3 linked regions of the Homo sapiens genome follow. The protein of the gene in region 1 interacts with the protein of each later gene in a biochemical or structural test. Each region holds a gene or a part of one and is shown on either strand. Other genes may lie near its edges.

The links.
Region 2: the proteins of ORC4 (region 1) and MCM3 form a complex in vitro, tested with the Homo sapiens proteins (one large-scale study listed by BioGRID and IntAct).
Region 3: the proteins of ORC4 (region 1) and MCM10 form a complex in vitro, tested with the Homo sapiens proteins (one large-scale study listed by BioGRID and IntAct).

Annotation. Positions count from the first base shown.
Region 1 is NC_000002.12:148,010,733-148,014,387, reverse strand, and holds part of ORC4 (origin recognition complex subunit 4), read left to right. Parts: intron 1-3,655. UniProt on the Homo sapiens protein: Component of the origin recognition complex (ORC) that binds origins of replication. DNA-binding is ATP-dependent. The specific DNA sequences that define origins of replication have not been identified yet.
Region 2 is NC_000006.12:52,278,163-52,281,817, reverse strand, and holds part of MCM3 (DNA replication licensing factor MCM3), read left to right. Parts: intron 1-143; exon of another isoform or gene 144-265; coding exon of another isoform or gene 266-277; intron 278-2,218; coding exon 2,219-2,457; intron 2,458-2,967; coding exon 2,968-3,076; intron 3,077-3,655. UniProt on the Homo sapiens protein: Acts as a component of the MCM2-7 complex (MCM complex) which is the replicative helicase essential for 'once per cell cycle' DNA replication initiation and elongation in eukaryotic cells.
Region 3 is NC_000010.11:13,185,438-13,189,092, reverse strand, and holds part of MCM10 (protein MCM10 homolog), read right to left. Parts: intron 2,930-3,655; coding exon 2,813-2,929; intron 213-2,812; coding exon 13-212; intron 1-12. UniProt on the Homo sapiens protein: Acts as a replication initiation factor that brings together the MCM2-7 helicase and the DNA polymerase alpha/primase complex in order to initiate DNA replication. Additionally, plays a role in preventing DNA damage during replication.

The sequences.
Region 1 (3,655 bases):
CAAGAGTTGGGATTCCTTCTGTTATACACATGACATTAAGGAAGACTTTAAGATCATGAATTCTATTTTCCTTCAATTTCCTCTTATCCTAATGATGTTGTCCTTAAACTCTGAACATAAATTGGGTAGTTTATCTGAGTCCCCAGCTTTGTTAGGCAATGTGCTTTTATTTTTATTTTTGATTTTGATTTTTTGTGTTTATTTTTATTTTAAATGAGGTCTCGCTGTATTGCACACAATCATCCTGAATTCCTGGGCTCAAGCTATCCTCCTGCCTTGGCCTGTCAAAGGATAGGATTACAGGCATGAGCCACCACACCTGGCCTTGTGCTTTGATTTTTTTACCATAGACCGGCACATCTTCCATTAGCTCAGCCTTTTTTCTCAGCCTTTTCTTCTAGACAGGAAAATGTCCTCAGAACAAAAGTTACTTGGTGTATGGTTTGTTTCTGGTTTACCTTCACATGGAATTTGGTAAGTAATTTCACATTACTTTATTTCATTCATTATTTAGTTTTTTTGTTGGCGTCAGCAGAAAGGTTGGTCCTGTCTGCCACTACCATAAATAAAACCCTAATTGTCTTTCTTTTTTACTTCTGAGATTTGATTTTAATATATTTATGCTTTGAGCCAAAATTTTTTTAACTTAACTCATATATTTAAAAATTTTAATTTTTAATTACTATGGATACATAAAATGGGGAGTATGTGATATTTGATATAAGCATACAATGTGTAATGATCAAATCAGGTAATTGGGATATCCATTACCTCAAGTATTTGTCATTTCTTTGTGTTAGGGACATTTCATTTCCACTCATTTAATTGTTCTAAAACATACACTAAATTATTGTTAGCTGTAATTACTATATTGTGCTACTGAACACTATATTTTATTCCTTCTATCTAACTATATTTTTCTACCCATTAACCATCTCCTCTTGATTCTCCTCTCAACACTACCCTTCCCAGCCTCTGCTAACATCTTTTTACTCACTATCTCTATGACTTCAATTTTTTTGAAGCTTCCACATATGGGTGAGAACATGTGATACTTGTCTTTCTATGCCTGGCTTATTTCCCTTATAATGTCAGTCACATCCATATTGTTGAAAATGACAGGATTTCATTTTTTTTTTATGGCTGAATAACATTCCATTGTGTATATGTACCACATTTCTTTATCCATCCATTGATTGACAGTTAGGTTGATTCCATATCCTGGCTATTGTGTATAGTGCTGCAGTTAACATGGGAGTACAGATACCTTTTATATACTGATTTCCTTTCTCTTGGGTATATACACAGTAGTGGGATTGCTGGATTATAGTTCTATTTGTTGTGTTTTTAGGAAGCTCCATACTGTTCTCTGTTGTGACTGTGCCAGTTTACATTTCCACCAACAGTGTACAAGGGTTCCCCTTTCTCCACATTCTCACCAGCATCTGATATTGACTGCCTTTTCGATAAAAGCCATTTTAACTGGAGTGAGTTGATACCTCATTATAGTTTTGATTTGTATTTCTCTGATTATTAATAATGTGGAACATTTTTTTCATATGCCTGTTTGCCATTTGTATGTCTTTTTGAGAAATGTCTCCTCAGATCTTTTGCCCATTTTAAAATCAGATTTTTTTTTCCTATTGAGTCGTTTGAGATTCTTATATATTCTGGTTATTAATCCTTTGTCAGATATTAGTTTGAAATATTTTCTCCCATTCTACATGTTATATCTTCATTTTATTGTTTTCATTGCTGTGCAGAAGCTTTTTGGCTTGGAGAGATCTCATTTGTTGTTATTTTATTTTATTTTCTTGCTTTAGTTGCTTGTGTTTTTGAGGTCTTATTTAAGAAGTCTTTGCCTAGACCAATGTCCTGGAGTTTTTGCCTAATGGTTTCCTTGATTAGTTTCATAGATGTAAGTCTTTAATGCATTTTTCTTTGATTTTTGTATATGGCAAGAGTTGGGGTCTACTTTTGTTGTTCTGAATGTGGGCATCCAGTTTTCCCAACACCATTTATTGAAGAGACTGTCCTTTCCCAATGAGTGTTTTTGGCACCTTAGTAAAAAACTAATTGGCTTTAAATACACAGATTAATTTCTGGACTCTCTGTTCTGTTGTTCTACATGTCTGTTTTTATGCCACTATCGTGCTATTTTGGTTACTATAGCGTTGTAGTATATTTTGAGGTTTGGTAGTGTGGTAAGTCTACCAGTTACCAGCTCTGTTCTTTTTGGTCAGGATTGTTTTGGCTATTTGGGGTCTTTTGTGCTTCCATACAATTTTAGGATTTTTTTTTTCTATTTCTGTGAAGAATGTCATTGCTCTTGATAGGGATGGCTTTGAATCTGTAGATTGCTGTGGGAAGTATTGTCATTTTAACAATACAATTTTTTTCAACCCATGAGCATGGGATGTCTTTTCATTTGTTTGTGTCCTCTTCAATTAATTTCATCAATGTTTGATAGTTTGCATTGTAGTTGGTTAAGTTTATTTCTAGATATTTAATATTATTTGTAGCTATTGTAAATGGGATCACCTTCTTGATTTCTTTTTCAGATAGGTTGTCACTGTTGGCATAGAGAAATTCTATGGATTTTTGTGTGTTGATTTTGTATTCTGCAATGTTACTGAATTTATTAGTTCTAATAGTCGTTTGTTGGAGTCTTTAGGTTAGTATAAGATCACATGAGCTGCAAACAATGATAATTTTACTTACTCCTTTCCAATTTAAATGCCCTTTATTTCATTCTCTTGTCTGTTTACTCTGGCTAGGACTTCTGTTACTAACTTGAGTAATAGTGGTGAAAGTGCCCATCCTTCTTCTAGATCCTAGAATAAAGGCTTTCAGTTTTTCCCCCATTCAGTCTGATACTAACTGTGGGTTTGTTGTGTATGGCTTTATCATGTTGAGGGATGATCCTTCTGTCCCCAGTTTGCTGAGAGTTTTTATGAAGGGATATTGAATTTTATCAAAAAAGATTTTTTTGGCATCTATTGAAATGACAATACACTTTGTGTCCTTCATTCTGTTGATACCATGTATCACACTGATTGATTTACATATGTTGAACCATCCTTACATCCCTGGGATGAATCCCACTTGATTATGATGATCTTTTTAATGTGCTGTTGAATTTGGTTTGCTGTGTTTTGTTGAAGATTTTTATATCTATTTTCATCAGAGATACTGGCCTGTAGTTTCTTTTTTGTTGTTGTTGTATCGTTGTCTGGTTTTGGTATCAGAATAAATCTGGGGCCAGGCATGGTAGCTCACGCCAGTAATCCCAGAACTTTGGGAGGCTGAGGCAGGCAGATCTCTTGAAGCCAGGAGTTTGAGACCAGCCTGGCCGACATGGTGAAACCCCATCTCTACAAAAAATACAAAAATTAGCTGGGCATGGTGGCTTATGCCTGTAATCCCAGCTAATCTGGAGGCTGAGGCAGGAGAATCGCTTGAACCCAGTAGGTGGAGGTTGCAGATCACCTGGGCAACAGAGTGAGACTCTGTCTCAAAAAAAAAAAAAAAAAAAAAAAGAATAAATCTGGCCTCATAAAATGAATTTGGAGATCCTCCTTGATTTTGGAGAATGATTTGAGTAGGATTGATGTTAGTTCTTCTTTAAATGTTTGGTAGAACTCAGTGAAGCCAT
Region 2 (3,655 bases), on another chromosome or scaffold:
GTTGGAGTGCAGTGGGTATTTGCAGGTGCAGTCATGGTGCACTAAATTTGCAAACTCCGGGGCTCAAGTGATCCTCCCAAGTAGTTGGGATTGCAGGCATGTGCTACGCCACCTGGCTTCACAATTCTTATTTTTTTTTTTAGAGACGGGATCTGTCTCTCTCAGGCTGGAGTGCAGTGGTGCCATTATAGAACACTGCAGCCTGAAACTCCTGGACTCAACGAATCTTCTCACCTTAGCCTCCTGAGTACCTGGGATTATAGGCATGCACCACCAGGTCCGCTAATTTTTTTTTTCACTTTTTTCTAGAGACAGGGTCTCGCTATGTTGCCCAGGCTGGACTGGAAGTCGTGGCCTCAAGTGATCCTCCTGCTTCCATCTTCCAAAGTATTGAGATTACAGACATGAACCACCATGCCCAGCCACAACTCTTATTATTTTTTTAAGAAAACACTTGTTCATTTTAGAAAATTAAGGAATAGTCAAAAGAAGAAGTCATCTACATAGATGTTTTAACAACGTTATAATTTTAGAATCTGCTTTTTAAAAAGTAGAAAAATAATGCTAGACTGTTATGTAATCTTTACAAATATTTTGTTGCGGGTTTGGGAGCAGGTTGGCATAGGAAAATGCTTTCTTCTTGGTGTTCAGATTGATCTGGATTGAGGACAATGCAAGGTTTTCCTCTGGAGACAAAAGATCATTTATATGGATTACTTGATGTCTGAACTGATTCTATCAAACAATTCCTCTCCTCCCCTCATCAAATTTTAATTGAGAACTACTGTATTCAAAGCACTATTAGGCGCTATGGAGGACAAGGATATAAATAAGACCCAGTCCTCGTCATTAGTCTTCACAGTGGTGGAGAAATGAAACATAAACAAAAACGAATGAATATCTTAGAATTATAACTTAAACATACTTTAGCATCATTTAGTCTACCTCCAGATGAAATGCTGAGATCAGAGAAGTTAAACAATTTGCTTACGGTCCCAGTTAGTGATGGCCTTAAGGACTAGGACCTGTGTCTCTTTAATTCATGCCAGTTGTATTTTCTAAGTCATTCTGTTGTCTTCTTCGGACCTTAAGATCTCCACTTTTTTAGAATTTCCTCTTCAGGAAGTACTTGGGAAGTACTCTTCTGTTGATTACTGTGGCCAAGCTTCTTTACTTGAAAAGTGAAATACATTGGACCAGATCTTCTGGAGGTTGTCTATGGTGATGCTTAAGAGCGTGGGCTTTGGAGTTAACACCTGTATCAAGTCAAGACTCTGCTACTTAACTGTGTGACCTGGGGGAACTTACTTAATCTCTCCTAGTCTCCTGGTTTCCTTGTGCATGACGTGTGAAAATACCTTCTTTACAAAGTTGTTGTGATAATTACATGAGATAATTTTGTGAAGTAATAGCACAGTGCCTGGCACATAGCAAACACTCAATAAGTGACAACTGTGTTTTTAGAAAATTCAAATGTGAAGGAAGTAAAACTTTAATATACGTACAGGAAAGCTCACATAAGTGTATAGCTTGATGAATTTTTACAAGCTGAGTACACCTGTGTAACCAGCTCCAAATGAGGAAATATTAGCACACAGAAGTCCCTCTTGAGGGCTCATGTTACCTAGGGGTAACCACTATCCTGATGTCTAACAGTATGGATTACTTTCAGCTGTTTTTTATTTAAATACTTATGGGCTTTTTATGCTCAACATTGTGTTTATGAGATTTATCCATGTTGTGTATAGGTGTGTTTCATACATTTTTATTGCTGTATAGTATTCATTTATGTGAATATACCGTGTTTAACCATTACACTATTGATGGCATTTTTACACTTTAAAATTTTTGACTACTAGGCATAATGTTGCTATGAGCATTACAATGCATGGCTTTGGGTGAATGTTTCTGTTGGGTATTACCTAGGAGTGGAAAAACTGCTTCAGAATGTAAGCATATATTCAGCTTTAGAGGGGAAGTAAGAATCTTAATTTAGATGTTAATATAACCATAGTCCATTCAGACTATGGGTTGCCCCTTCCATTCGATGGTTGTTACTAAAACAGACAGGAACACAAAAAGCTAGAGAAGGTACTTGGCTTTTTTTGTTACTGAATAATAAAATTTTATGAAGTCATCTTATTTGCCATGACAGGTGAGTGTGGCATTTTTAAGACAGGACGGAGATCACTCTGTCCCTCTGTGTGCCTTTTTCTAGGATGAGGAGAACAATCCCCTTGAGACAGAATATGGCCTTTCTGTCTACAAGGATCACCAGACCATCACCATCCAGGAGATGCCGGAGAAGGCCCCAGCCGGCCAGCTCCCCCGCTCTGTGGACGTCATTCTGGATGATGACTTGGTGGATAAAGCGAAGCCTGGTGACCGGGTTCAGGTGGTGGGAACCTACCGTTGCCTTCCTGGAAAGAAGGGAGGCTACACCTCTGGGACCTTCAGGTAAAGGGTCTGCCTTAAAGTATATGGAATGCTGTTGACAGCTTCCATTTCTGGTAATATCCTTTCTCCAGTTTGCCATATTCCAGAGAGTTATATCTGATAGGTGGAGCACTCTACCTGCCTGGGAGACAGGATACCTTCAATACCTCTTTTCTATCAGATAAAGCTGGTGATACTTAACCATCATATGCCAAAAATGAGAGTTATTGGTGACAATGATTACAGCCTCATGGCTTTCCTGGGAGTTTCTCATTTAATTACACTTCGTCCCCATACACAGTTCTGTCTGAAGTTCTGTGGGTCAATTCCAGAGGTGGGGCATGATCAGCATATTTGGATCACAGACAGAACCAGTTGTTTAATTCACAATAGCTACCTGCCCCCTCCCCACCAACTCTAATTGGCTGGTCTAGTTTGGCAGCCTAAAAAGGCTTACTCCTGCTAGGGGTACTAGCTACTGATGTTAGGAATTGAATATAACGGGTTTCCTCTTTATTCTGTTTGTCCCAGGACTGTCCTGATTGCCTGTAATGTTAAGCAGATGAGCAAGGATGCTCAGCCCTCTTTCTCTGCTGAGGATATAGCCAAGATCAAGAAGTTCAGTAAAACCCGATCCAAGGTCTGGGCATCCTTTAGAAATTTGAGGGTGGGAATGGATTTCTAAGAGTTGTGTTTTGGTGCATGGCTATTTTTGTACTAGATCAGAAGGAAGGGTTGAGGTTTGGTGTTAGCTTTTTCTATTTTTGTCTCAATCAACAAATGAAGGGTGTTTTTGCTGTTTGTTCTTTAGTAATTCTGTTGTTATTAAACAATTTTAATACCTGCTACCTGCTGGGCTGCTAAATGAGCCTAGTACAAATATTAGGATAGGTGTTAACTTGCCCGTGTACCAGTAAGTCTATTTATTACTGAAGGCGTTAGTGATGCATTACTACTTAAACATTTTTTCTTTGTTTTAGTTCTCCAACTTGTTTTTATCTTTTTAAGATAGGATGTATATCCACATTTAGAATTGAACTACATATATGAATGTGTGATGATAAAGGTTACTGTTCAAGCACAGTACATGTTCTTATTAAACCTAAAATGTTTTGAACCTGGGGATACTTTTTTCCCTTAAAGATTAAACCTCTAAACAAGTTTTGGAATCCAGGCTGCTCTGTGCCTACTCTGATAATGGCCTGATAGTGTAATTTGT
Region 3 (3,655 bases), on another chromosome or scaffold:
AGAACGTCTTACATTGAAGCTGCATACGAGGCAGAAGAAACCCCTCCGTAGTAAAAGCCATCTTGGCACAGCCGTTCTTTGAGGCTGGTGCCTCTGCGGGCAAACTTCTTTGGAATTCGTCCTCCAGAGAAGGTGGACTGCAGATCCGCACGCTTTGCGCTGAGCTTCTTGTACTGAGCCTGGACATGGTACTGACAGTACTCACAGTCACGCTGCAAAAGGCAGAGCAGTGGCATCAGGATGAGGGCAACAGGCTGGGAAACAGCAGTGAGCAGACACAGTTCCTTCTCCCCACTTCCCGGAACATGACGCATGCAGAGTCCTCCCTGCTGACCTCCACGACCGTTCCCAATGTGGAAGGGCTGCTCAGTCCCTGAGGGGAAGAAGTTCTTCCCTTCGAGTCCCCTGAAAGCACTGTTCTGGTGAAATACCCCTTGCCCTCTTTCTACAAAGGAAATCAGCTTTTAGGATGAACCTTGAAAACAAGTTAGGTGAAAGAAGTCAGACACACAAGGTCCTATGTTATTTAATATAGGACCTATGTTATTTAATATAAAAGGAAGTTTTTATAGAAGAGGCAAATCCATAGAGACAGAAAGCAGATTAGACGTCACCAGGAGACGGAGGGAGTGGGGATGGGAGTGATGACTTTATGGTGCCATTGTTTTTACAGGGTGATGGAATTCTGAAACCAGGGAGCTGGTGGTTACACAACTAAATATCACTGAATTATATATGTATTTTAAAATGATTAACTGTATATTGTGAATTTTGACCCAATAAAAAATAATTTAAAAACAAAATCAGCTCCCAGCGAGGTTTTTCTAGCTGTTTCTCTGGTTGATCCTCGGACAAGTGCTATCCTTTCAGTGAAAGAAACAAAGAGAGATGGTGCAGCATTGTTCTGCTGGGTGAACAGTAGTTACGGCGACAATGGATTTTTTTTTGGAGACAGAGTCTCGCTCTGTCACCCAGGCTGGAGTGCAGTGGCGTGATCCTGGCCCACTGCAACCTCCAACTCCTAGGTTCAAGTGATTCTTCTGCCTCAGCCTCCCAAGTAGCTGGGATTACAGGTGTGCACAACCACGCCCAGCTAATTTTTGTATTTTTACTGGAGACGGGGTTTTACCATGTTGGCCAGGCTGGTCTTGAACTCCTGGCCTCAAGTGATCGGCCCACTTCGGCCACCCAAAGTGCAGGGATTACAAGTGTGAGCCACCGCCCCATCCAGACAATGGATTTTTAAGAATCTAATTCTCACGGGGAGATCTGTTGGGTACTTCACTCTGAAACCTCATTTTCCAACCGTCTCCCACCTTATTCTTTCCTGTCCACCAATTAATCTAATAGGAAGGAATAAGGGAATAAAAAAAGATTAAACCAAAACCTGTCATTTAATCCTTTCAAAGAACTCTAAGAAGTACCTCTTCACACCTACTACAATGGCTATAACAAAAAAGAAATAGAGTAACAGGTGCTGATGAGGACAGGGAGAAACTGGAAAGTTCATCCATTGCTGGTGGGCCACTTGGGAAACCAGTCTGGCAGTTCCTCCAAACTCTGGACAGTTACCATGTTGACCCAGCAATCCCACTCCCAGGTATATGCCCAAGGGAGTGGAAAACATACATCCACATAAAAACTTGTATGTGAGTGTTTTAGCAGCATTATTCATAATAGCTAAATGTGGCAACAACCCAAGCGTGTATCAACTGATGAAAGAATAAACAACGTATGGTATATCCATACAATGGAATATTATTTACCCACAAAAAGGAATAAAGTGTTGATAAATGCTACAGCACGGATCAATTGTGAGAAAAATTATGCTAAGCAAAAGAAGCCAGACAGAAAAGGCCACATATTGTGATTCCATTATATGAAATGTCTAGAAGAGGCAAATCCATAGAGACAGAAAGTAGGTTAGTGCTTACCAGGGGCTGGGGGAGAGGAGACTGGGGAGTGATTGCTAGTGGGTACTGGGTTTCTTTCTGGGGCAATGAAAGGGTTCTGAAATTACACAGTGGTGATGGTTGCACAGCTCTGTGAATGTACTAGAAATTACTGAATTGTTGACTTTATTTATTTATATTCTTTTTTGGAGACAGAATCTCACTCTATCGCCCAGGCTGGAGTATAATAGTGCGATCTCAGCTCACTGAAACCTCTGCCTTCCAGGTTCAAGTGATTCTCTGGCCTCAGCCTCCTGAGTAGCTGGAACTACAGGCGCCCACCACCATGACCGCCTAATTTTTGTATTTTTAGTAGAGATGGGGTTTCACCATGGTGGCCAGGCTAGTCTCAAACTCCTGATCTCAGATGATCTGTCCGCCTCGACCTCCCGAAGTGCTGAGATTACAAGAGTGAGCCACCACACCTGGCCTGAATTGCTTACTTTAAAAGGGTGAATTGCATGGTATGTGAATTATACCTAAATGAAGCTATTATTTTTTAAAAAGCCCTAAGAAAAGGTATAATGGAGTTAAAATATAGGCTAAAATACAATTTTCATTGTATTTCATCATGTTTGCTCTGTGGAATTACAAGAATTAAAGGCAAACAAAAATTCTGTCTTAAACTTCTTGGTCAGATAAAAGATCACTTTCCTAAGAGGTTAAATCCCCTCACCTTTCCCCTGCCCTCACTTTTTTAAACTGGCAGTTATTAACCACACATTAAATTTTCTCATTTTGACTCTTCCTTTAAGTGGGAAACTCAGTTCCAAACTGGTCATCACAGCTAAAGCACCAACAGTTTATTCCTAACTGTTCTTTTCTTTAGCAGAAACCATCCTAACAAGGCTGAAACCAACCAAATTCACAGTCTGCGTGCACGGCTCTCCATTCTTCTTCTTGGCTTTACAGGTTCCCAGGTCAAGAGCTTCACCCATAATTAAGACCTTCTGAGGATGATCGATAGATAAACACACCTGTAAGAAAAGGTGGGGCAGGAGTTAAAGGCGGACAAAATTATGGCCTTTTATTAGCAGGAATAGAAAAAAGAATGGTTGGTGCTGATTTAAGAAGGTTATTGCCAGGCGCAGTGGCTCACACCTATAATCCTAGCACTCTGGGAGGCCGAGGCAGGTGGATCGCTTGAGGCCAAGAGTTTGAGACTAGCCTAGGCAATGTGGCAAAACCCTGTCTCTACAAAAAACCACAAAAATTAGCCAGGCATGGTAGTGCGTGCATGTAGTCCCAGTTACTTGGGGGGCTGAAGTGGGAGGATCACTAGAGCTTGGGAAGTCCAGGCTGAAATGAGCTGTGATCACACCACTGCACTCCAGCCTGGGCAACAGAGTGAGGCCGTCTCAAAAAGGAGAGAGGTTTTAGTGGTCTAAAGGAATTTGAAGCCAGGGCTCTATAACCGTTTTAGGAACAGGGATGCAGAAGGCACCTTCAGTTCTTTTCCCATTTTCCATCCTTTCCTTCATCTTTGCGATTGGAATCCTGATTTTCTCTAGGCTGGCTGACTTCTCAGCCTCAGGTCATAGATCCTGTTCCCTGTTCTCCCAGCACTCCTTAGAGCTAGCATTGGTTATGTGATAAGTTCTAGATGCTCAGACATAAACAGGAGTTGGTAGGGAAGCTTCTGCTTTCCTGACAAAATGAGTTAGGAGGCTGGCTCCCCCTTCCTCTTCACTTCTTGCCTTGAA